Linked DNA regions of Homo sapiens: region 1 is linked to region 2. The links come from fine-mapping of genetic effects on plasma protein levels. A gene starts in region 2. The other region holds a variant in brackets. All regions are shown on one strand. Distances are between the middles of the regions.

Region 1 (2,913 bases), 70 kb after region 2:
GTGAGATGGTATCTCATTGTGGTTTTGATTTGCATTTCTCTGATGGCCAGTGATGATGAGCATTTTTTCATGTGTTTTTTGGCTACATAAATGTCTTCTTTTGGGAAGTGTCTGTTCATATCCTTCACCCACTTTTTAATGGGGTTGTTTGTTTTTTTCTTGTAAATTTGTTTGAGTTCATTGTAGATTCTGGATATTAGCCCTTTATCAGATGAGTAGGTTGCAAAAATTTTCTCCCATTCTGTAGGTTGCCTGTTCACTCTGATGGTAGTTTCTTTGCTGCGCAGAAGCTCTTTAGTTTAATTAGATCCCATTTGTCAATTTTGGCTTTTGTTGCCATTGCTTTTGGTGTTTTAGACATGAAGTCATGGCCCATGCCTATGTCCTGAATGGTATTGCCTAGGTTTTCTTCTAGGGTTTTTATGGTTTTAGGTCTAACATGTAAATCTTTAATCCATCTTGAATTAATTTTTGTATAAGGTGTAAGGAAGGGATCCAGTTTCAGCTTTCTACATATGGCTAGCCAGTTTTCCCAGCACCATTTATTAAATAGGGAATCGTTTCCCCATTTCTTGTTTTTGTCAGGTTTGTCAAAGATCATATAGTTGTAGATATGTGGCATTATTTCTGAGGGCTCTGTACTGTTTCATTGATCTATATCTCTGTTTTGGTACCAGTACCATGCTGTTTTGGTTACTGTAGCCTTGTAGTATAGTTTGAAGTCAGGTAGCGTGATGCCTCCAGCTTTGTTTTTTTGGCTTAGGATTGACTTGGCAATGCGGGCTCTTTTTTGGTTCCATGTGAAGTCTAAAGTAGTTTTTTCCAATTTTGTGAAGAAAGTCATTGGTAGCTTGATGGGGATGGCATTTAATCTATAAATTACCTTGGGCAGTATGGCCATTTTCACGATATTGATTCTTCCTACCCATGAGCATGGAATGTTCTTCCATTCGTTTGTATCCTCTTTTATTTCCTTGAGCAGTGGTTTGTGGTTCTCCTTGAAGAGGTCCTTCACATCCCTTGTAAGTTGGATTCCTAGGTATTTTATTCTCTTTGAAGCAATTGTGAATGGGAGTTCACCATGATTTGGCTCTCTGTTTGTCTGTTATTGATGTATAAGAATGCTTGGGATTTTTGCACATTGATTTTGTATCCTGAGACTTTGCTGAAGTTGCTTATCAGCTTAAGGAGATTTTGGGCTGAGACGATGGGGTTTTCTAGATATACAATCATGTCATCTGCAAACAGGGACAATTTGACTTCCTCTTTTCCTAATTGAATGCCCTTTATTTCCTTCTCCTGCCTGATTGCCCTGGCCAGAACTTCCAACACTACGTTGAATAGGAGTG[G/C]TGAGAGAGGGCATCTTTGTCTCTTTTGATCTTTGTTGGTTTAAAGTCTGTTTTATCTGAGACTAGGATTGCAACCCCTGCCTTTTTTTGTTTTCCATTTGCTTGGTAGATCTTCCTCCATCCCTTTATTTTGAGCCTGTGTGTCTCTGCATGTGAGATGGGTTTCCTGAATACAGCACACTGATGGGTCTTGACTCTTTATCCAATTTACCAGTCTGTGTCTTTTAATTGGAGCATTTAGCCCATTTACACTTAAGGTCAATATTGTTATGTGTGAATTTGATCCTGTCATTATGATGTTAGCTGGTTATTTTGCTCGTTAGTTGATGCAGTTTCTTCCTAGCCTTAATGGTCTTTACAGTTTGGCATGTTGGTACCGGTGGCTGGTACCAGTTGTTCCTTTCCATGTTTAGTGCTTCCTTCAGGAGCTCTTTTAGGGCAGGCCTGGTGGTGACAAAATCTCTCAGCATTTGCTTGTCTGTAAAGTATTTTATTTCTCCTTCACTTATGAATCTTAGTTTGGCTGGATATGAAATTCTGGGTTGAAAATTCTTTTCTTTAAGAATGTTGAATATCGGCCCCCACTCTCTTCTGGCTTGTAGAGTTACTGCCGAGAGATCAGCTGTTAGTCTGATGAACTTCCCTTTGTGGGTATCCCGATCTTTCTCTCTGGCTGCCCTTAACATTTTTTCCTTCATTTCAACTTTGGTGAATCTGATAATTATGTGTCTTGGAATTGCTCTTCTTGAGGAGTCTCTTTGTGGCGTTCTCTGTATTTCCTGAATTTGAATGTTGGCCTGCCTTGCTAGATTGGGGAAGTTCTCCTAGATAATATCCTGCAGAGTGTTTTCCAGCTTGGTTCCATTCTCCCCATCACTTTCAGGTACACCAATCAGACGTAGATTTGGTCTTTTTACATAGTCCCATATTTCTTGGAGGCTTTGTTCGTTTCTTTTTATTCTTTTTTCTCTAACCTTCTCTTCTCGCTTCATTTCATTCATTTCGTCTTCCATTGCTGATACCCTTTCTTCCAGTTGATCACGTTGGCTACTGAGGCTTGTGCATTCGTCACATAGTTCTCGTGCCGTGGTTTTCAGCTCCATCAGGTCCTTTAAGGACTTCTCTGCATTGATTATTCTAGTTAGCCGTTTGTCTAATTTTTTTGCAAGGTTTTAACTTCTTTGCCATTGGTTCGAACTTCTTCCTTTAGCTTGGAGTAGTTTGATCTTCTGAAGCATTCTTCTCTCAACTCGTCAAAGTCATTCTCTGTCCAGCTTTGTTCCGTTGCTGGTGAGGAGCTGCGTTCCTTTGGAGGAGGAGAGGCGCTCTGACTTTTAGAGTTTCTGGTTTTTCTGCTCTGTTTTTTCCCCATCTTTGTGGTTTTATCTACCTTTGGTCTTTGATGATGGTGACGTACAGATGGATTTTTGGTGTGGATGTCCTTTCTGTTTGTTAGTTTTCCTTCTAACAGTCAGGACCCTCAGCTGCAGGTCTGTTGGAGTTTGCTGGAGGTCCACTCCAGACCCTGTTTGCCTGGGTATCAGCAGCGGTGGCTGCAGAACTG
Region 2 (2,913 bases):
CCAACCCTCAAGACAGACCAGGTCTGAATGCCCAGTAAAGGCAGTTTATTAGAAAATCAGGTGGAGGATGGGCTATGAAGATTTACTGTTTTAATTCATGTTATTCCCTCTACCTACAACATCCTTCCCTACTTTCCCCCTGGAAACCTCCACCCATCTTCCAAGGTTCATTTCAATTATGGTCTCTGGGAAGTCTTTCCCTTTCCCCACCCCATGGAGCCTAACTACTTCAGGCCCAGTTACGCTTTGCTAGCACTTTGAATATTCTGTACCCTATATCATTGCATTATTTACTTGTCTTTCTCCCACCTGTAGATGGTGTATACTGTTAGAGGACAAGAACCTGCTTCTAGCCATCTTTGCGTCTCCAGGACCTGACTTGTGACCATTCAATAAGAGTTTGATAGATGGACAGACTAATGAATAGATGAAGATGATTAGAAGCCAAAATTTCTGAATCTTCCTAGCACCCAGAACATGGCTTAACATCAAGGAAATGCTCACTAAATACTGTCATAATGGAATGAATGGAACCGATGCCTAATTGAAAATCATTAGGCTGTAAACCATTTCCATGTTCCAATTTCTTCGTTTATAGAACAGAAATGATAGTGTAACCACCTGAAAATCCTTCACCTAGACTTCCAAAACCACACCCACCTCATCAATGAAGTCTGACTCTCTAGAAAGAAGCAAATGACTGAAATCATGGTCCTGTGCCTTGACCAAAATACCATTCGTCAGAACAAAAGAAGTAGGTCAGTGAAACGGCATTAGTATATCCTTCAACAGGCAAATAAGTGATAGTGTAGTTTGCTTTTGAAGTCGCTGTGAAAAGTTTTAGGTGAACATCACCTACACCACATTAAAAATGGAATCAAGTCATTTTCTTTAAGAAATGGAGTTTGAGATATGAGAATTCTTTTGGGCTTTTTCTACTTATTGGCCAATTATACACCCAGATATATTTCTGCAATATTTCAAAGATTCTAGTTCTAATTTGTATAATAAAAAAAATTAACAGCCTTTTCCAGACCACATGTTTCCAACAAGACCTTCAAAGGCCTCGCTCGCTATATAAAACTGGCTTTAAACAATTTCCTTTCCCAAAGAAGGAAATAAGATATTTCGGTTTTGTAAAAGAGGCAAAACCAGGTACAGGCCACCTTTCCTGCTGGAGAGCTGGCATAAGTGAGTGGATTCTTAATTACTATTTTACCTGCGGGGCATAATTACTTACGTGGAGTGAAATAAGGAGCCGTCCTTTTCTAAGTAGCCTTCATAGTGGACCAACATCAAATCCCCTCCTTTGGTCTTGCGATGGCAGATGAATGGCTTCTGGAGAACTTCAATTTTCACTTCTGGTTCAGGGATCAAAGCCCCAATCAAAGAAGTGACGAACAGAGTCAAGACCGCGTTCCACAAGAAAAGCCTCATGTTGCTGAAGCAAGGAAAGAAGTCCCTACAAAAGCAGCGAAAGGTCCCTCGACTTCATAGATTTAAGAACGTAGTTCAAGGCTTACGGACAAGGGCTTCAGACAAGTTCAGGACTCCCCCTTCTTAGAAGACGTGGCACATTTACCACCAACTCTTTTCTCAAGGGTCACGAACCTACCTTTAAAGAGTTAAGCCCAAATGCCGGCCTGACTGGCTCTTATAACGCGGCCGCCTGGGAATAGCAGCCTCCCATTGGCTATTGGTGCTGTCCTTCAGGCAGCTCTCAAGCCAATGACGCTGCAACGATGGAATTTACAGCCCGGTAGAGCCGGGCAGCTGCCAAGCGGCGGATCATCCCTTGTGGTCCTAGAGCCCGGTGGATTTCAGCATTCAACCAGCGTGGATTTTGGGAGAGGGGCGGGGCGCAGAGCCAACCGGAAACTCCTCCGGCTGATTTATCTCTGTGAAGAACCCTGCTGAGAGACGTAGGAAGAGTCCCGGGGCCCTATGAAATCTTCGGGGTTCCAGGAAAGACTCGTTTACTCTCGCCGTTGGAGAGCGGCCCCCCAAGATGCCACAATCCTAGGATTTTGCTATTGCTTATAAACTGTAAAGACTGACATACTGCTTGAGGGTTCACAAAGCGCGTTCCCGTTGCATGAACCTCACTACACCCAGTAAGGCAGGTTCTTTTTTCCCATTTAAAAGAGAAGTAAATTTACACCAGGAGATATTAACTGTCCTGCTTAAGGTTGTTTGGCCCCGAAGCAAATGAGCTCTGCCTTCAAACCAGGTCTGATTCATTCCACAGCACCACGTCATGTTATGGCTGCTAATAATTTATCCCTTAAGTTACCTTACAGGGTAAATAATGAGTTTCGACTTGCAGACTTCCGCTTTAAAGAAGAAATGGTAATCATGGTTACGAATTACACAGCCTCATCGTAGTTTACATTTTCTAGTTTTACATTTTTTGCCTAAGTTCAAAAGTAATGCATGTTCATTGAAGTCATTTTGGAAGAAATTGGAAAGCACTAAAGTAAGATTTCCAGATAATATTGGGGAGTCGAATCAAGTTGGAATTTCAGATACATAACGAATAATGGTTTTGCATTTTTATTTACTAAATCAGGCAACTTTAAAGAAAAAGAAAGCTCGCCGATACCACCACCAGCCGCAAACAATCCTCTTAATATTTTGGTGCATGCTTCTGTGACATATACTTAAAGCGATTTAAATCGTATTGTAGTCTTTTCTCACCTCCTCTTTCCACTTAATCTGTAGTTAACATTTTTTCTGGTCTAATAACCTTAACACAGTGCATATCCGCACTCTATGTGCATAGGAATCCCCCTGAAGATCTTGTTTAAAATGCAGATTTTGATCTGGAGGTCTGGGGTGGGTGCAAGATTCTGCATTTCTAACAAGCTCTTAGGTGATGTCAGTGCTCCGGGTCAGTAGATCAACACTTCCATA

Which allele goes with the higher level. Positions count from the first base shown, and alleles are read on the strand shown. Strength reflects both the effect of a copy and how common the allele is.
In carriers of allele C in region 1, the plasma level of the protein whose gene starts at base 1,631 in region 2 tends to be lower than with G alone (weak association).

The links. PIP is the chance, under the fine-mapping model, that this variant and not a neighbour inherited with it causes the effect. Protein levels are from antibody-based Olink assays in UK Biobank. Linkage for the fine-mapping came from a reference panel and not from the study's own genotypes, which makes the PIPs less certain.
Region 1: its variant is fine-mapped to the plasma level of the FKBP14 protein (UK Biobank, PIP above 0.99).

Annotation. Positions count from the first base shown.
Region 1 is chr7:30,095,226-30,098,138 of GRCh38, forward strand. It overlaps a transcript of PLEKHA8 not described here. Among named protein-coding and RNA genes, the nearest start is that of MTURN, 38 kb to the right of the region's middle. The variant G/C (reference allele first, on the strand shown) is at 1,350.
Region 2 is chr7:30,025,072-30,027,984 of GRCh38, forward strand. It overlaps FKBP14 (FKBP prolyl isomerase 14), which reads right to left and starts at 1,631. Exons shown (of 4, transcript NM_017946.4): 1 at 1,241-1,631. The coding sequence starts at 1,437. FKBP14-AS1 (FKBP14 antisense RNA 1) reads left to right here. Exons shown (of 3, transcript NR_187577.1): 3 at 316-2,170. RefSeq lists an enhancer at 1,887-2,036.